3 separate regions of the Homo sapiens genome follow, and all the other regions are linked to region 3. The links come from fine-mapping of genetic effects on gene expression. A gene starts in region 3. Each other region holds a variant in brackets. All regions are shown on one strand. Distances are between the middles of the regions. Region 1 overlaps TRAPPC12 (trafficking protein particle complex subunit 12). Region 2 overlaps TRAPPC12 (trafficking protein particle complex subunit 12). Region 3 holds the start of TRAPPC12 (trafficking protein particle complex subunit 12).

Evidence for each region.
Region 1: its variant is fine-mapped to the expression of TRAPPC12 in whole blood (TOPMed, PIP above 0.99).
Region 2: its variant is fine-mapped to the expression of TRAPPC12 in whole blood (TOPMed, PIP 0.92).

What each region holds. Positions count from the first base shown.
Region 1 is chr2:3,440,356-3,447,520 of GRCh38, reverse strand. It overlaps TRAPPC12 (trafficking protein particle complex subunit 12), which reads right to left. Exons shown (of 12, transcript NM_016030.6): 6 at 3,630-3,742. Among named protein-coding and RNA genes, the nearest start is that of TRAPPC12-AS1, 39 kb to the left of the region's middle. The variant C/A (reference allele first, on the strand shown) is at 3,441.
Region 2 is chr2:3,455,208-3,462,372 of GRCh38, reverse strand. TRAPPC12 (trafficking protein particle complex subunit 12) reads right to left here. Exons shown (of 12, transcript NM_016030.6): 7 at 4,680-4,752; 8 at 2,037-2,110. Among named protein-coding and RNA genes, the nearest start is that of TRAPPC12-AS1, 24 kb to the left of the region's middle. RefSeq lists enhancers at 818-1,685, 2,038-2,551. The variant T/C (reference allele first, on the strand shown) is at 2,747.
Region 3 is chr2:3,377,375-3,382,374 of GRCh38, reverse strand. TRAPPC12 (trafficking protein particle complex subunit 12) reads right to left here and starts at 2,681. Exons shown (of 12, transcript NM_016030.6): 1 at 2,499-2,681. It overlaps EIPR1 (EARP complex and GARP complex interacting protein 1), which reads left to right and starts at 4,557. Exons shown (of 9, transcript NM_003310.5): 1 at 4,557-4,727. The coding sequence starts at 4,686. RefSeq lists silencers at 2,661-2,710, 4,274-4,333 and enhancers at 3,199-3,715, 3,716-4,232, 4,504-4,553, 4,574-4,753, 4,774-5,000.

The DNA of each region.
Region 1 (7,165 bases), 64 kb before region 3:
TTGGGATCTGATTGTCAAAAAAAGTCTGGTGCCTCCCTCCTCCTCCTCTTCTCTCTCGCTGTCTTTCTCACCATGTGACACACTTGCTTCCCCTTTGCTTTCTACTATGATTAAAAGCTTCCTGGCCAGGCGCAGTGGCTCATGCCTGTAATCCCAGTACTGTGGGAGGCCAAGGCGGGTGGATCATTTGAGGTCAGGAGTTTGAGGCTAGCCTGGCCACCATGGTGAAGCCCTGTCTCTACTAAAAATAGAAAAATTAGCCAGGTGTGGTGATGGGCGCCTGTAATCCTAGCTACTCAGGAGGCAAGGCAGGAGAATCGCTTGAACCTGGGAGGTGGAGGTTGCAGTGAGCCAATAGCGCCACTGCACTCCAGCCTGGGTGACAGAACGAGACTCCGCTTCAAGAAAAAAAAAAAAAGCTTCCTGAGGCCTCACTGGAAGCAGATGCTGACACTGTGCTTCTTGTACAGCCTGCAGGACTGTGAGCCAAAATAAACCTTTTCTTTATAAATGACTCACCCTCGGGTATTCCTTTATGGCAAAGCCAGATGGACTAATACACACTTCTTGAGTAAAGAAATTCTAGCATGAACACAAACTGTCCCTTTTTAAATTCTGGAGGATCATGATGTATTGGTGATGGCTGCAAACCTAAAAGGAACAGGTGAAACAAGCATCGTCTACCAAACTGTAAACTCACTGAGGGCGAGGCTGCGTTCTGTTGAGTCCCGAACTGCCAGTGTGCAGTACTCAGTAGGTGCTGAAAGGGCATTTGCTGCATGAACAAATGAACAAGCTCAGATAGAGCTGTTCTGGACAGCGTGGAGACGCATTGCTCCATGTCCCCGCAGTGCCCACTGTTCACATCCAGATAAAAACTGCTTCAGTTCAACACTGAACCAGCCGCAGAAAGGTCAAGAATGCCCACATGCGGCCATGAGCCCCTAACGTGCAAGGAAGTGAGCGAGGAAGTTGGCGACGGTGCTTCTTCTCCTGCCAAAGGTGGCGGACAGGCAAGGCTGACTATATGGTCATGCCCTGGGTCTTTCCCTCTTGGTCCAGGCATCCACCAGCTGTGCCACAGTGCAGCTCTCTCTCTCAAGAGGGTGTCAAATTTTAAGTCAGCACATAAAGGAACACATAGTAATTACATATTGAAATTAACGGTGAAAATCCTTTAAGGTGAAGACCAACACACACCTTTTCATAAATCCAACTGCTTGTTTTTCTTCCAGGATTAGAACGAATTGCGATTTCCTCATTTAAGTACCATAAGGAGTGTTGGCTTAGATTTGGATCATGCCATGGAAAAGATATGTATCTTTAAACATGAGAGATACCTGAAGTGCGGTTATGTATTCACAAGATGAGAGGCAGGTGGAACTGTAGACCAGCGGAGGGAACGAGAAGCATGAGTGGCTCTCTCACTGACGGTGGCCCCACGCCCAGTCAGCCTGAGAGAAACGTTCCTAGGATGTGACTGCACTAACCCTTCTCGTTTCTCCCCAACCCTACGATGCTTAGCTGTCAACTGCTGTTGCTTGGAAGCCCCCTCAAGAGTCTCAGGAGGGCCCAGCCCAGCAGAGCACAGGCTCGAGCCCATCTCCAGGCATCAGTCAGGGGGAAGGGGCAGGGCCCCATTCAGCACAGGGGTCTTCTGAGCAGATGTCAGTTGACCCCGGACAGCACTGTCCTTTCTTGGAGCAGAAATGCTGGTGCAGGGTGGAAGAGAGGACTCTCGGTCCTTCTGTCTTCAAACGGGACATGTTATAGTGATGAAGCCAGGCAAGTGATGAAGAGCATGGACTTTAGAGCCAGATGACTTGGGTTCAACTCATGTGATCCTAAGTTACCTAACCTATCTGTGCCTCAGTTTCCCCATCTGTAAATTGGGATAATAACATCTCCTTCATAGGGTTGTGATAAGGATTAAATGAGTTAATATTGGAACTCAGAGCAGTGGCTGCCTCATAATGAATGCAACAAAGGTGTCTGTCAGGTGGAGTAAGTGCAGGTGCCCAGAGCAGCGGTGTGGGAAGCTCCTGCTCTCTGCTCCACCGTCCCTGCTGCTTCATAGCTAGTGCTAAGTGGCTCCTCTCATCGTTACACTGTAGTATGCAGTTTTTCTTTTTTTTTGAGACAGAGTCTTGCTCTGTTGCCCAGACTGGAGTGCAGTGGCTTGATCTCGGCTTACTGCAACCTCAGCCTCCTGGGTTCAAGCGATTCTCATGCCTCAGCCTCCCAAGTAGCTGGGATTACAGGCATGAGCCCCTGTACCCAGCCTGTAGTATGCATTTAAGGAGCATAATTCTGAAATAGGACATAACAGGACCAGGAAAGCTGACTTGCAAAACTACTTCAACTAACTTGGCTTTTCCATCCACAAATCACCCTATGGCCCAGAATTTTCTCTCTCAAATACTATAAAGATTTCCTACAATGTGACATGGAGGATAATGAAAAATTCGTATAGTTTAGAAAGTCACTGATTTAGAACTTCTCAATTTCAAGTTATGTGCTTCCGATTTCTGTAAATAAAATTAAACCCCGTTTTAAGATTCAAGAAAAGTGTTGAAATGTAAAAAAGTTGGTAACATGATTCTCCATCAACTGATATAGTACAGAAAGCAAACAATTTTTCTTTTTATCTTTTAAGTTATGGTAATAAAAAAATGGAAGTGGGTACAAAGCCCAGGACAACAAGGGGCCTAGAAACGCCTGTTTTTTCTCCACAGATAAGGATAAAGAGGGCCCCTTCCTTCCTTACTAGGAACACTGTTAACACCATCATCTTGGAACTCCGCAAAACTTCTACCACAACAGTTAGGAAGTGAAAGGAGGAATCTGACAAGAAGAATCTTAGTTTTCCCAAAAATTATAATATGCTGCTGCTCCTAATAACTGCTTGTTGTTGTAGTTTTCAAAGTACTTCCGCATACCTTATGTCACTGAACCTATACAGGAACACTGTGACGTGGGTAGAAAGGCAGGATCATTCCTAATCTGAGATGAATACTCTATAACAACCTGTAGACAGCAAAGTCTCTGAGTCCCACATTTCTTCCCAATGTCAGTTAGTGTAATAACGTGCCACTTTGGTGGCTCCCACATTAACTGTGACTTCACAACCAAGAATGAGTCCGAAAACACTCCGACTCTGCCTTTGCAGTCAGGATCATGAGTGACAGTTGCCATAATGCAGAAGCACTTACTTGGATTTGAAAGCTTAAACCATGATTGCTTTCAGTACTGCTCCGGTACCTCTGTCTGCACGTGGCAGGTGCGTGTGGGCACTTGTGGGACACAGGGGTGGTCTGGCACACTGACCTTGAAGCTTCAGCTGGCAGCCTTGGCAAGAAAGATGTCTCTGCCTTTCAGCTTCCCATAGTACCAGGCAGTAAGAATTACAGGACTCAAGCTCTGCTAGAAACTCTTACCAT[C/A]CCTAAAAAAGATTTCAGCAAGAGACACGACTACCAGGCCACACAAACCGGGTCACCTAGCCTTCTGAAGGCAGAAGCAGCGATGGTGCATGGGGCAGGACGGGCAGGGAACAGCACGGGCATGTCCTGTGGGGAGGGCGTGGAGGGCATGTTCTCCCCGTGGCAGGGAAGAATGACAGCGCCACCTACCTTGCTGCAGACAGTCTTCACCTTGTGCAGTCTATCCAGCGACTCCTGTGGGTTCCCCAGGTACTGCTGAAGCTCCGCGTGCAAGATGCGCATCGAGAAGGGGACCATGGAGCCTGGAATCCAATCAGTGCTGAGTGAGTTTGTTTGCCATAACTGAGCACGCATTCATACTTGGCACACTTGAAGGAGGCGTCGCAGATGTCCCAGCAGAAGTGATGACAGATCCCTTTATTTCTTGTGAAGTATTTAACGGTGTCAACTATAAAATACATGCTGGTTTTCTCTATGGAGCTCTATGTATGTATGTCTCGACAATTATCAGAGGAGACAGGTGGATGACACCACAATTTCCAAAGCTACACTGCAATCATTTAGAAATGATCCCAAAATGAATGAAACAGTAGAGACCGCCAACCCCTCCTCCAATAAAAGAAAAACCAGAATGCTCAGATATTCTTTAATATTTCTTTAGTTTAGCAAGCTCGAATGGTAGGTTGCTTAGCTTGGGTTCCCCAGAAGGAGACCCTGAAGGGAGAAGCCGTAAGCCAGCCAGTGGTTCCGGAAGTGCTCCCGGGAAAACCAGTGGGGAGGAGGCGAAACTGAGCACAGGTGCGTCTCAGGCCTCGGCCCTGGGGATGGGCCTCCCACTGGATTCCATGTGGCCCTGGAGCCTGCGTTCCACCTCTGACAGGAGGCAAGGGAGCTGGACTTGAAAAATCCATCACCCAGAGCTGCCTGGCTTTGCGTGCGCTAAGAAGAGGAAGAAGCTCAGGAGAAACCCCCTTTATATCGTATCACCTGTGGCTGCATCATCTCTCAGGGTAAGGTCAACTTTTTGTTAATATTGTGTTCTCTTCTAATAGGATTTGGAATTTGATCTGTAGTATGTATACTAAGTAGATAACAATCATCAAAAAATCAAATAGCGTGCACTGATTATAAATGAGATAAAGAATAGAGAAATGCCAGAGGGCAATCACATAGATTCAGTAAAGTGCTTTTCAAAATAGGCCTAAGCGATGAATATTCGGATCTGGAATATAGTCTGAAAGATGGTGAGAAAACACGCGTATGACTTCTGCAAGCCACTTAATGTATCTGTGCCTCAATGCATCCATCTGTCTATTCATTAACCATTACTGAGAATGGGCCGTGACCACACTGAAATGAGCTTTATGTTTATGGTCTTTAATAACAAAGGTCCAAAAAGAAGACAGTCAAAATTAAGGAACACTATGGAAAACAGTTCTATTGTGATTATAAGCCTGGAGAAAAGAAAGGTAACAATTATTGAACTTAAAATGTTTAAACTTTCTTTTTTGATGCCACTAAATAATTTCTGTATCTCAAGAGAATATCTGGCCGAGCTTAAGTTACAGCCTGAGTCACTTCGGTTTTCTAGAAATAAACATTTCTAGACCATCCGCATAATGACACAGGGGACTGGCCTACAATTAAGTCATATGTAAGTCATGTCACTGTGGAACCGGCCCAACATGGTAAGTTATATGTAAGCCACGTCACTTCCATCCTTCTGTCTCAAGTAGAGAAGGGGCCAGAATCACTCCTGTGTGGTTTATCACTTACCACAAGGGAGAGAATATCTCAAGAACCCTTCAAGCTCTATAAGATAAGCACAGAAACAAACCTCTACTGGAAGTTCTCAAACCCAACTTGGGACTAGCTGTTAATACTCCGATCTCAGTTTACAGACTAGCTGTTAATACTCCGATCTCAACGTACAGACTAGCTGTTAATACTCCGATCTCAACGTACAGACTAGCTGTTAATACTCCGATCTCAATTTATAGACTAGCTGTTAATACTCCGATCTGGAATACAGTTTGGTGGATGGTGAGAAAACAGGCTGTGTGACTCCTGCCACTTCACCTGAGAAGGTGGCAGAAAGTTAGCTGCCCCTTATCCTGACAACTGCCCATGGACATGGGGGTGCTTCTGGATGTAAAAGCACATGTGAAAATATTTTGAACTAAGTGAAAATAAAAATACAACTTATCAAAATTTGTGGGATGCAGCAAAAGCAGTGCTGAGAGGAAGCTTTTTAGCATTAAATGCATATATTGGAAAAGAAAGATCTGAAACCAGCTTCACCTTTGAAAACTAGAAGGAAAGAAAGAGCAATATAAGCCTAAAGTAAGCAGTAGAGAAGAAAATAATAAAAATATTATTTTATTATAAGAAAATAAAATATTTTATTATAAGAAAATAATAAAAATATTATTGTATTATAATAAGAAAATAATAAAAATATAATAATAAAAATTAGAGCAGAAATCAGTGAAACTGAAAACAGGAAATCAATAGACAAAATCAACCAAACCAAAAACATATTCTTTGACAAGACCAATAAAACTCTGACAAGACCAATAAGTCTCTCCCCAGGCTAGTCAAAAAACAGAGAAGACATAAACAACTAGTACTAGAAGTGAAGGACTATTACTATGGATCCTATGAACAGTAAAAGAATAGTAAAGGAATATTATGAACAGCTCTATGTCCATACATTTGGTAACTTGGATAGAAAAAGAAAAACCTTTCCAAAAAGCAAGCCCCAGACCCAGATGGTCTCACTGTGAATTCCACCTAACATTTATGGAAGAAATGCTACCAGTTCTCTACAATCTCTTTCAGAAAACAGAAGCAGAGGAACGCTTTCTAACTTCTTATATGAGTCTGGCATTACCCTAATACCAAAACCAGACAAAGACGTTACAAGAAAAAAAAACTGTAGACCAATATGTCTCATGAACATAAATGCAAAAATCTTCAACAAAATTAGCAAACTAAATCTAAGAAAACTGAAGTCAACAAAAAATTAGCAACCAAATCCAACAATGTATAAAAAGAATTATGAACCATGACCAGACAGAATTTATTCCAGGTATGCAGGGGTGATCTAACATTCCAAAATCAATTAACATAATCTACCACATCAAACAGGCTAAAGAACAAAAATCATATCAATAGATGTAGAAAAGCATTTAACAAAATCCAGCACCAGCTCGTGATAAAAACTCTCAGCCAACTAGGAATAGAGGGAAACTTCCTCAACTTAATAAAGGACATCTACAAAACAACTGCAGCTAACAACAAACTTAAGAGTGAGAAACTCAGTGACTTCCCCCTAAGATCATGAATAAAGCAACAATGTTCCCTCTTATCTCTTCTACTGAACATTGTACTGGAAGTTCGAGCTAATGCAATGACAAGAAAACCAAAGGTACACAGACTGGGAAGAAGGAAATAAAACTACTTGTTTGCAATGACATAATTATAAAGAACAATCTCAAAGAACAAAAACACTTCTAAACTAGGAAGTGATTAAAAGTCACAGGATACAAGATCAATATGCAAAAGTCAACTGGCTTCCTAGATACTAGCAATAAATGATGGGAATTTGAAATTAAAAACACACTATCATTTCTACATAAATAAGTGAAATACCCACGTATAAAATGGACAAAATATGCACAAGAGCTATAGGAAGAAAACTATAAAACTCTGATGAAAAAATT
Region 2 (7,165 bases), 79 kb before region 3:
TTTTTAACTCATGAAAATGAAAGCTTAAGCTGAACTTTCAAATTAAATCATGTCCATTGTAAAAGTATTTTTGAAATGCAATAATATGTTCTGTACTGAGTCCCAGCAATACAGGAAGAAGACTCACATTCGGAGCCTGGTGGTGGTGTTACTACCACAGTGCCACAAAGAAAAGCCCATTCCGTCGTTTTCTATTAATGTGTCTTAAAATGCAAATGAAAGCCCGCCAGTGGAACAGGGAACTTTCCTCCCTGGGGAGTTTTAGCCCCATGATTAGTGAAACGTCAGTCCTGTGAATTTATAATTGATTCTTCATGTCTTTGCATAAGAATGTTCCGGCAAGCTGGTGACTTTCAGGTGACGCTGACAATGCCCTCAGCAGGTGGAGGCCTACTGCGGACCGCCCAGACCGCCAGGTGGGGGTGTCAGGGCTGGCCACAGGCAGCACAGGGAGAATGGCCTGTTTTGGGAGGCAGAGGGGTCAGGCCGGGTGCTTCGGGGTCACCTGGTTGCTGGCCAAGCCTTGGGTGGTGAAGAGGCCACCAGGGCAGGGGAGCAGGAGGGCCTACTTTTCACTCCCACTCAGAGGTGGGCAAGCCCTGCTGCAGAAGCCAGAGGGGGCTGGAGAAGGGAAGGGGGCGGGTGGGAGGAGGGTGAGGACCAGAACAAAGCACCTGTGCGGGCCACCTGACCTCAGTGGGACTATCTCAGGAGTGGCAGCGGAAGAAAAACCTGCTCTGAGCAAAACCACAGAACTTGAAAACCGTAATTTCCTTTATCCAGTGTGTTGAAGGAGAGGAGAGAGCTGTGTGAATGTCAGAGCTGGGAGGGATTTCAGAGATCTCAGATCTATGCCCTTATTTTAAGGAGGAGGCTGAGGCTTGCAGTAGTGCGAGGCTGCGTCACGGTCGCTTGCTACCGAGGATGAACAGGACGCCGAGTCTCCTTGTGCGTCCAGCCTGACGTAGACGCAGAAGCGCAAAGGCAGCGGCCCCGCACTGGGCACTGGGGCTGCGCTAAAGCCGGGGTGCGGGCTGCACGTCTTCCTGATGGAATGCCTGAGCCACTGATGGCTGTGAATCTATACCCGCACCCAGCCTGCTCGGAGCAGTGCCCGGGGTCACAGTCACCTCTGGGGATGCTGCAGGGTCCGTGCATAAAGCAGGGCTGCCACTTCAGGGTTCATGACAGAGCCCGTGAGCACAGTTCTCCGCTGGTAAATTGCCTGCTCTGCCTTGCTGAAAATCAAGCTCAGGAATGACCTTGGCCCCATGAAAGCCGCATGGGTGTGGGAGTTAAGGTCGCTGTCTTCGAACAGCCCAGGAGGTGTTACGAGCACTGCTCCGGAGCGCCTGCTGCTAGCTGATTCCTGCAGTAGCTCTCAGTACGCACAGCTGGCTGCAGGGACACTAGCTCCACACAGGGCACCCTGATGCCCAGTGTGGGAGGTGAGCCAGGTGTGGGGTGCGTTCCAAACAAAGAGAGGAGCCAAAAAACACCGTTGCACAGGCTGGCGAGAGCCAGGAGACACGGAAAAACAGATGACAGCCTCAGTTCAGCTCCTTGATTTCTAAGCTGTTTCCCTGCGGGCTGAGAGCTCTGGGGTGACGTCCTAAGAAGGTCTTGTGGGGAAGCCTGTCTTCAGGTGTTGTAAGCATCAATCATAAAATCAAAACCATGAGGTGAAAAAAACACCCTCCACGAAGATAGGGAGAACAAAGGACACCTTCTGGGGATGGAGTTCAGAGAAAAATGGGGGAAAATGAACAATACTTTTAATTAAATCATTTAGACCCACATTTCAATAATGAAATCTGATCATCTAAATTCTACATTCTGTTGAAATTTCTTGCAGTAGAAATAAAGTACATATAGCCCCATAATGTGTCACTGGGCTCCCTGTTAAGCCAGTACTTAGCTGGCTTCTCTGCACGGCCGGTCCCTGCCAGCATCTATTATACCAGCGGCTCCCTCGCGGCTCCCACTGACCCCGCTCTTCCAGATCACATGGCAGCCCTGCTTGGCCACCCACGTACCTTCATCAGGAGCAGACAGTTTGCCATGGAGTACATCACCCGGCCCAGACGTGACCTCCACAGCCGGATAGAGGCTACAAGGTAAGAGCAGCCTGTAAGTGCACAAATAAATTCGAGGCTCTTTCTAGCCCTCAATTACTGGGTCCTGTGAATTCTAATTTAACTTTAAAAGATCCCTCTTGTTAACACCACTGGATTTCGGCCTGGAATGCTGAATATGCTGCAGGCTGCACTGAGGCAGAAAATACAGCACTCGCATTGGGACCAGAGGTGGCTTTGGGAAGAGACCCTCGGCATCAGAGAACCAGGAGGGTGGCTGCTCAGCATCAGCCCAGACACAAGGCCAAATGGTCCGACCGGGGGCCCCGTTTCCAAAGCCAGAACCCTGAGAAAAGGAGCAAAGCTGACAGAAACGACGACATTGCCTGCAGCTCGACAAGGCTGGGAGGGCCACTGGCCAGGGTGGCCGCCAGCCTCTCGCAGTTGACCTATGGGAGGCCACCCGGAGGGCCCCACCCATGCCCAGCCATGAGGCCTCCCCTGCCTCCCGACCATGGGCTGGTGCAGACGCCGGTTCCCCCAAGGAGTGCTACACCGTGTTCCAGAACTCAAGTGGCTGGCACATTCCGCTGGGGACTCGGCACTCCCCTGCAGCTGGCTTCCTTCCCTAGCACCTGCTGCCACACGGTGGCTGACCGCGACCCTGAGCC[T/C]GGCCCGTCCCTCCCTGCTCTCCCCTGCACATTATTTAGTTAGCAGCCATCCCTCCACTGATTTCAAACCTTCAGGGCCCATCTCTTCTAGTAGTTTCCAAACTGGCTTTGTGGCCTTCTTGGGGTCTGCAAAGGTCCCCTGGGAGCTGCCCTGGGGGGAGGGTGGGCTGACCAATGGTGCCTGTTTATCATTGGGATGACCAGGAGGAAGGCGCAGGTTGAGGACTGAGCTAATCTGAAATGAACATATTATTGACAGGCAGGCTGAGGTCCACAGAGGCCAGGGACGCTTCCATCTGACCCCTTGTCCAGCGCTCCTTGCGCCTGTGCTGTGTCTACTTCCTCGAAGAAAAGTCCACACTTCCAACTGCAAAGTGCCAAGATGCCACCCTGGGCAGCACCAGGCCCTGGGAGTGCTCCTGGCCTCCCTCATCGCTGGGCACTGGGAGCCGTGTGTCCCTGGCTGCCTCTGAGGCTGTGATTTAGGAGGCTGAAGCTGACCCACCGCTGGCACCAAGCGTCCACTGTGAGATAACAATCACCTAGAAATGATGTGCATTTACGGTGTGCTTCAGGAGAACACACAGAAACTTAATTGCTAGAATTAAAAACTTAACTCACTTTGCCTTTCAGCAATGAAAAACACATTAGCTGCTTATGTTCCCCTTATACCATTATTTTTGTGAAAAGAAATTCTGAATATCTTCTCTTAATGGATGTAAAATATGGATTGTCTCAATGAATTGCATATTTATTCTGATGATCTTTGCAGATTCCTTTCCTGCTCTAAATCCTCCCCTACCCTCCTTATAAATGCTCATGGGTGTGACCTTCTGTTAGATTTCCAGGAACAGCCTTCTGCTCTCTGATAACTACATGCTCATTCCCACCAAAGCAGGAGCCCAACCAGGGGTAAAATGACTGGTTGCCAAGAATGCTGAATGGGACATCCATGAGCAGACAGTGCCGTCTCTCCTTCAGACCTTGTTACTCTACCTGCAATTAAATTACTGAAAAGAGAGTGCACAAGTGCACACACATGCACACACCACACCCACACCACATGCCACAGCATGCACACCCAACATCCACACACCACACACATACACACCTCACACACGTTCAGCTCACACCAGCCAGCAGTTCCCCAGAAACCCCAGCACACCTGCGGAAACGGAGACCACCCGATCTTGACTTGGGCTGCACATCGAGTAGGACAGAAGCTGTGGGAAGGAGGAGATGACCAGGCCACCAGGCCTGTGGGGAGATGCTGCCACAAGGAGTGAGGGAGTGAGGCTAGGGTGGGGCTACCTGGGAGGGAGCACTCAGGCCAGGTTTCCAAGCATGATCGGAAGCTTGCTCCTGGCTAACGCACTCCCCGAGCTGCAGCTGGCATGGCCTCACTGTGCAGATCAGCTCATGTCAACCCACCCAGTCCCCCAAGGGGTTTCCAATGCTCCAGGGAACTGCCCAGGTCCCTCAGCCTGCCCCAGGCTCTGGGCCTTCCTCTCCAGCTCCTCCTGAAGCACCCTCCCGAGCCTCTGTCCCCGACGCAGAGGCCTCTGTCCCCGACGCAGAGGCCTCTCTCCCCGACGCAGAGGCCCCTCTGGGCCCCTTCGGCTGGGCTGGGCTCCTTCCTCGCGCCCACTCAGACCACTCAGCGTGGCAGGTTCCGGGCCGTGTGCTTTTGTGGTGAAGGCGTGTCTTCTCCCCGGGCGCAGGGTTCGGGTCTGAGGCTGCACGTTGCACCCACAGCATCACCCAGTGATGTGCTTGGCTTCCCCAAGAAAGGAGTGAGTTGCAAATGCACGAGTGGACACGTGCAGTGCTGACTACAGAAAGGAAAGGAGAAGGAGAGGAAGCGAGAGGCTTTGGGCTCAGTCTGTCAGTGATGTCCGAGAAGCATCTAGTCAGCAAAGTCCGGCCGACCCACCTTGTCTGCCCTCCTGAGTCACGCTGCTCATGCCGCCGTCTTCTGCTAAGCCTTGCTCCAAATTGGCCAGGATCTGCAATCATTCCAAATGAGAAGGACAAAATCATGGGAACCAATTTTTGTCTAAGACTTTGTTATAATATAATCTCAGTACAGCAAATTTCTCTGGATGAAAACAATTTGTCAAGGGATGTTCACACATACTTTTAAAAAATATTAAAACATTTGATATTTTATTTATTTTAAATTGCAACTTTATTTTAGATTCAGGAGGTATGTGTGCAGGTTACCTGGGTATACTGGGTGATGCTGAGGTTGGGGTACGATTGAAGCCATCACCCAGGTAGTCAGCATGGGACCCAACAGATCATTTTTCAGCTCTTCCTCCCATCCCACCCTCCCCCCACTGGTAGTCTCTGGTCTATTTTTTGTCCATGTGAATCCAATGTTTAGCTTCTACTTACATGTGAAAACATTCACTATTTGGTTTTCTGTTTCTGTGTTAATTCACTTAGGATAATGGCCTCCAGCTGTATCCATGTTGCTGCAAACAACATGATTTGGTTCTTTTTTTACGGCTGCGTAGTATTCCACAGTGTATGTGCACCATCTTTTCCTTATCCCGTTCGCCCACAGGGACACACTGTAAACATCACCAAGTCCCTATGGCGTGGGGCGACAGTGAATGGGGAGGGACTCTGCTCCCAGCTGATGGTGAAAGTGGTGTTTATGATGTTCTTGAAGTATCTGCAGACATCATACATGGGGAATATGTTTTTTAAGAAAAGCATCAAGCCTGTAATCCCAACACTTCTGGGATTGAGCGGTGGCTCAAGCCTGTAATCCCAACACCTTGGGAGGCCGAGGCAGGTGGGTCACTTGAGCCCAGGAGTTAGAGACCAGCTGGGGCAACATGGCAAAACCCCATCTCTACAAAAATACAAAACATTAGCTGGGCATGGTGGTGTGCGCCTGTGGTCCCAGCTACCTGGGAGGCTGAGGTGGGAGGATCACCTGAGCCTGGGAGGTCAAGGCTGCAGTGACCAGGGACTGCACCACTGCACTCCAGGCTGGGTGACAGAATGAGACCCTGTCTTTAAAAAAAAAGCATGGAGAATGTCACATGAGACTGATGATGACCTTTTGTGAAGATGTCAGTCTCATTCCTACAGGGCACCGTGCTTCTGGCCTTTTTAACGTACCAAATACGTTTTGTGCAACGTGTCGCTTCCCGGTTTTACCACTTGCTTTTTAACTTTTGGGCACTTTTTTTTGTGTTTTCTTCTCTGAAAGCAAAGCTGCTGTAGCCGCTGTGATCTGGGTAGAGAATTTAGATCGTCTTGCCAGTTAACACTCCCCACACGGCCCACCCCAGGAGGTGAGGATTTCCGCTGGTCCGACTCCCCGGTCTCTACCTGCTGAGGATGAAAGCAGCCTCTCCTCACCTGCAAGGGACACTACTTAACAGAAACTGGAGAACAATTTGCTGCCAACACAAAGGATGTTTCCTCTTAACCGTTATCTTGGGCTACCTCGATGACTCAGGGGACAAGGTGGGGTTCAAAATTGTAACCTTGAAAAGAATCTAGCCAGTTTAAACTAGGTAAAACGACATTCTTCAGTGAATCTGCCTTCTAATGAATGATCATAAGAACAGAAACTGACAAAAAGGAAAGGCTTGGTGTTACCATGAAATTAACTTCCCTCACCCCTTGTCCACAGTTGGTGGGAATGTACATCAGTGCAACCACTAGGGAGAACAGTTTGAGGTTTCTACAAAAAAACAAAAAATAGAGCTACCATACAACGCAGCAATCCATGCCTAGATATATACTCCAAAGAAAAGAAAGGAAATCAGTCTATCAGAGATCACTGCACACCCGTGTGTGCTGCAGCACTGTTCACAACAGCCAAGACTTGGAAGCAACCTAAGTGTCCATCAGCAGACAAGGGGATAAAGGAATTGCCATATATACACGATGGAGTACTCTTCGGCCATAAAAAAGAATGGTATCCTGTCATTTACAACAGCATGGATGGAACTGGAGGTCACTGTGTTAAGTGACATACGCCAGGCACAGAAAGACAAACATCGTATGTTCTCACTTATCTGTGGGAGCTAAACTTTAAACAACTGAACTCATGGAGATGGAGAGCAGGAGGATGGTTACCAGAGGCTGGGAACAGTAGTGGGGGATGGAGTGGGGATGGTAATGGGTACAAAAAAAAAATAGAACAAATAAGACCTAGTGTTTGCTAGTACAAGGGTGACTACAGTAATTTAAGTGTACGTTAAAAAAATAACTAAGGGAGCATAATTGGATTGTTGCAACACAAAGGATCAATGCTTGAGGGGATGGATACTCCATTTACCCTGATGGGATTATTACGCATTGCCTGCCTGTATCAAAATATCTCCTATAACCCATAAACACCTACTATGTATCTACAAAAATTAAAATTTATTAAAAAAAGGAAACTGACTT
Region 3 (5,000 bases):
GACCACGAGGTCAGGAGATCAAGACCATACCGGCTAACATAGTGAAATGCTGTCTCTATTAAAATACAAAAAATTAGCCAGGCATGGTGGCGGGCGCCTGTAGTCTCAGCTACTTGGGAGGCTGAGGCAGCAGAATCACTTGAACCCAGGAGGCGGAGGTTGCAGTGAGCCAAGATCGTGCCACTGCACTCCAGCCTGGCGGCAGAATAAGACTCCATCTCAAAAAAAAAAAAAAAAAAAAAAAGTGGAAATAAACACTGCCTGTAGACACAATAATAAGTAAATAAGTAGACTGTGGTATACTAGGACATAAAATATTAAAATAGTGGTGAAAATCAGTGAACTCTTCCATATCTAACATATAAATTATGTTTGGATCTCACAAATACAATTTTGCACAAAGAATGAGTAGAAAAATAAACAGCATGACTCTGTATATTCAAAAACATGTAAATTAAACAAAAGTGTTGAATCCAAACACTTTTTCTGTGTTAGGAACACAAACATATTTGGTCAAACTACAAAGAAAAGCCAGGATATAGTAACAGCCACTTTAGTGAGGGAGGGGTGGAAGGTGATGGCAGGAGAGCTTGACTGGGGAGGGACACACGGAAGTTTCAACGCACTGGGAAATGGTCCCCATCTTATGCTGGTAATGGAAGACTGGGTTGACTTGATCTTTAAATCTCACATGTGTGTTACGGGTAGTCTTTATAGTTCATAATTAAAAATGGAAAAACACAAGTATCTGTTCTTGATTTGTACGTGATAGAAATCTTTACTCCCTCCTATCATTGGCTTTATTTTTATTAAACTATAAATAGGATTTTAAGCTTACATAAGCTTACAGAAGCTTTACATCACAGTGCAGCAAAGAAATCTGACTTTCTCCTTGTCCAGTTGAGGGCTTTGCACAAGAATGTGATTAATTAATTGTTTAAAATTTTTTTAAATATTAAATTTAAGTAATTCTGTATTTGAGAAATAAAAAGTTCCTAACAACATTTAAAACTTGGTTTCTCAGGTTCATTTCCTGGACACAGACACTCTGTAAACATATCTTTTACCAAATTGCAGTCATGTAAAATTTCCTTCCATAAGGGCACGAGGGTGTGTAGTGGAAATCTAGGTGGCACGTATTAACAGAAGTCTCCATGTAATGAACACTCACTACAGATCAAGCATTTTACCTTATTATTTAATACTCATCCTAAACTTTTGAAGCATTATTATTACCTCCATCATACAGCAGAGAAGGCCAAGTGATTTGCCTAACATCACACTGACAGTACCTGATGGTGACAGGCTACCCACACAGCGCTTTCTGCCAATACTCTTTTCTTTGTGCTGGTCACCTCTCAGCTCCTCTTGCAAGGTTGCCAGGCAGGGGTGGGCAGAAAGAGCTCTGAAGGCAGTGTCTCAATAACTGTGTTGAGTCTTAGCTTCCCGACCAAGTGAAGTAACCTCTGAAAATCTTGATCTTTTAGATGGTACATCAGAATAAAGAGGATTAAATAGTGGCACCCCTGCATAGGCATCTTTTAAAGTGTGAAGAGCTGCACAGACACAAGCATAGTAATTATCATTTTAATGATAAAGCAGAGTGGCAACACCCAGTTTAGTAACTGTGAAGAAGATCCCATCAGATATCACAAAATGTAAGAACTGAATGAGTAACACTGTGTAATATTTCATTTGCTTTTCCCCTGTCCCTCTCCCACCCCAATCCCAAGACGGGACTGGCTCATTATCCGCCACTATCTTCTGAATTTGCGAACAGTGACTGAATCCAAAGACACCATATCTTCAAGTAGCCATTAAAAAGTACAAACCGTAGGTCCAAGAAAATTTTTCCTTGGGGCTACACTGTTTCGTAGTGAAGAGTGAAAAAATGACACGTTAAAACACATCTTTGACCCTAACGCTTTCTGTTGAATAAACGCTTTTTCGGTCTTCACAGTAAATATACTCTACAATTAGTATGTGTAGCAACAGCGGACGTTTACACAGTGACTCAAATGCTTTTACACTGCATTGCAGCCTCACAATGCTGAGTTTGGCAGGGCAGGTCATTAGTAACCTCTTTCCGCGGGAGGGTGAATTAAGTCTAAGGGAAGTTAAGGGGCTTGCTGGGGGCCTGGCTGGCACCAAGCCTGGAACTGGGGGTCTCGGGGACGCCTGGGCGCGCGCCAGCGGGTAGTTTCCCACACGCTTCGCAGCAGCTTCCCCTTCCCGCAAACTCCGCGGGCTGCAGAGACGCTTCCAGCCCTCTGCAGACGTGGAGAGCAAGGGCCGCGGCGACGTGGAGCCTGGCACAAGGCCCGCGGAGCACACACGCCCTTGGGTGGCAGGCGACCCCGCGCCCGGACCCCACGCCCACTCTAGCATCGGTCCCAGAGAAGGTCCCTCCGGGCTGAGGCCAAAGCCAGTGTGCTCCCTCCCCGAGGTGGCGCTACACGGTCCCATCCCCTCTGGACTGCCGAGGCCCTGATCCTCACCTGCCACCCGCCCACTGGAGCTGGGCTAAGGGGTCACCTGCGGCCGTGACCAAGGTCCGTGAGGAAGGTGACAGAAGCCGGGAATCGGAGAGGAACTGGCACCCCCGGGGAGCTCTGTACGCCTGCGCGTGCCGGGCCGCGGCGCGCCTAGTTCTGCTCAGGCCCGATGCAGGAACCCGAGGCCCTGCCCCCAGGCCGGAAATGGGGTTCGTTTCCGGTTCGTCTGCTGTGGGCGGGGCCTGGAGCCCTAGGTGTGAACGCGCACAGGCAACCAGGAGCCGGTAGTTGAGGGGAGCGGACCCTGTACTTGGAAATGGGAACGGAGACTCCACTCCACCTAGCCTGATTCTGTCACTCAGAGGCAATAGGCAAGCCTGTGGCAGATGGGGCGGGTGAAAGGGAGTCGCTTAGGCTATTTTTATTGACCAGCATATCCTAGAAATCAGTGTTTCTATGGATTTGTCTTTGTGTTTATCTGTATTTTGTAAGTTTCTTACCATGCACCTGCAGTACTTGTATAATAAAATTAATGATAAAGATATCAGTGATAGATGGGTGGGTTTAATCCCGAAGTATGAAGGCCCTCTTAGCTCCGCAAGTTAATATCGGCAAACAGAGTGGTTGAATAGGATGATTCTCATGTCTGGGCCATTGCTTACTTGATTTCTTTCTTTCTTGTTTTTGCTTACTTGATTTCTTTCTTTTCTTTTCTTTTTTTTTGACCGACTCTGGCTCTGTCGCCCAGGCTGGAGTGCAGTGGCGCGATCTCGGTTCACTGCAACCTCCGCCTCCCGGGTTCAAGCGATTCTCCTGCCTCAGCCTCCCGAGTAGCTGGGATTACAGGCGCGTGCCACCACGCTGGGCTAAGTTTCGTATTTTTAGTAGAGACGGGGTTTCACTGTGTTGGCCAGGCAGGTCTCGAACTGACCTTGTGATCCACCCTCCTCAGCCTCCCAAAATGCTGGGGTTACAAGCGTGAGCCACCGCGCCCGGCCTGCTCATTTGATTTCTCATGTAATCTCTAAAATTTCATACACTCAACAGATACTCATCCAGCCTTAACTCAATACCACGCGCCTTGCCCAACTGAGCAAAACGAGACCCAACCATTTCCGTCACGGAGATCAATAAAGGGTAGAGGGGAAAGCTAATCACAGAAATGGAGGAAAGGTGCGTGGTCCTGGAAGCCCCGGTGGAACCAGGCTAGCGGCGTGGTTCAGCTATGATGTATTTTGGAGTCCTTGCGATGCCATTTCTGCTGGCCCAAGGCCAGGGCAGGCACTTTGAGCAGGATGCGAAAGAGGGGCAGTCTCTCCACCACAAGTCTTTAGTCTTTGGAGACCTCTAGGAACCCCAGGGCCTTCCCTTCCGACTCCCATTCGGAGGCATATGCAGTCCAGGACCACCAGTGGTGCGGTGCCGGCTTTCATAACCCCATCCTTGGTAGTGCTTTCTTTGCCACACAGTGCTGGGCACCTGCAGAAATGCATTAGGCATGGCCCTGACTTAGGGCACCTTGGGCCGAACCTAAGGGAGTCAGCTCAGGTGCCCATCCTGGCTACCCAATGGACCAATGAGCGCTGCGACTGTGTTACTCAACTTTGCAGCGTCTCATCGGTAAAATGGAAGTGTAACAGCTTATTCATAGGGTTGGATGAAGCTCCTTATGGCAGTGCGTGTGAAGCGCTGGCCCAGCGCTCAGGAACGCCAAGTACATACAAATGACAATACATGGCGGCGCCCAACTACGGCGTGAGCGATTCTTAGATGCGATGGCTAGCTAAGGCTAATCGCCGCTTGCTCCCGACGGCCTGCGCTCGGAGCCGGCCTCCACCCACAGCCGGCCTCCGCGGCCCGCTCCGCCCACCAACTTATTTCCTCTGGGCCGGGTTCTCACCTCCAGGAGTCCCCGCGCTGAGAGCCCGGATGTGAGCCCAAGTGGCCATGCGCACAAGCCAGCGCCGCTGCCATTGGTCGCTGGTGAGGAACAGATTGATGACACATCCGAAAAATAGGAAGTGGCCACTACGGAAGCTGTTCTGGGCCAGAAAGACTTCCAGTTTGGAGTCGTTTGCTGCGGGGAGGGAATGAATGGGCGCTGGGAACACGCCCGCGAGGTGGGGACGCGCCGGCCGTAGCGAGGTCCTTAGCGTGTGAGTGGCCGGGGTCGGGTCGCTTCCCCGCAGCATGGAGGACGATGCACCAGTGATCTACGGGCTGGAGTTCCAGGTGGGTCACTGGGAGGGCGGCAGGTGCTGCTCGGCCTGGCTGTTGATAGCATGCGCGGTCCCATGGTGACTTCGGTTTGCAGATCTCCCACCAGCCCTGCAAGGACCCGTGTCTGTTCCCTAGTTCCCATTTTGCAGAGAAGTAAACTGAGGCTTTAGGAGGTTAAACGGTTGTACTGGATAACAGGGTTGGCCACAGCCGGCCTGCCTCCTTCCCCTTCACATCCTGTCCCGAACATGACTTCTGACCTGGAAGTTATCACTCACTTTGGTG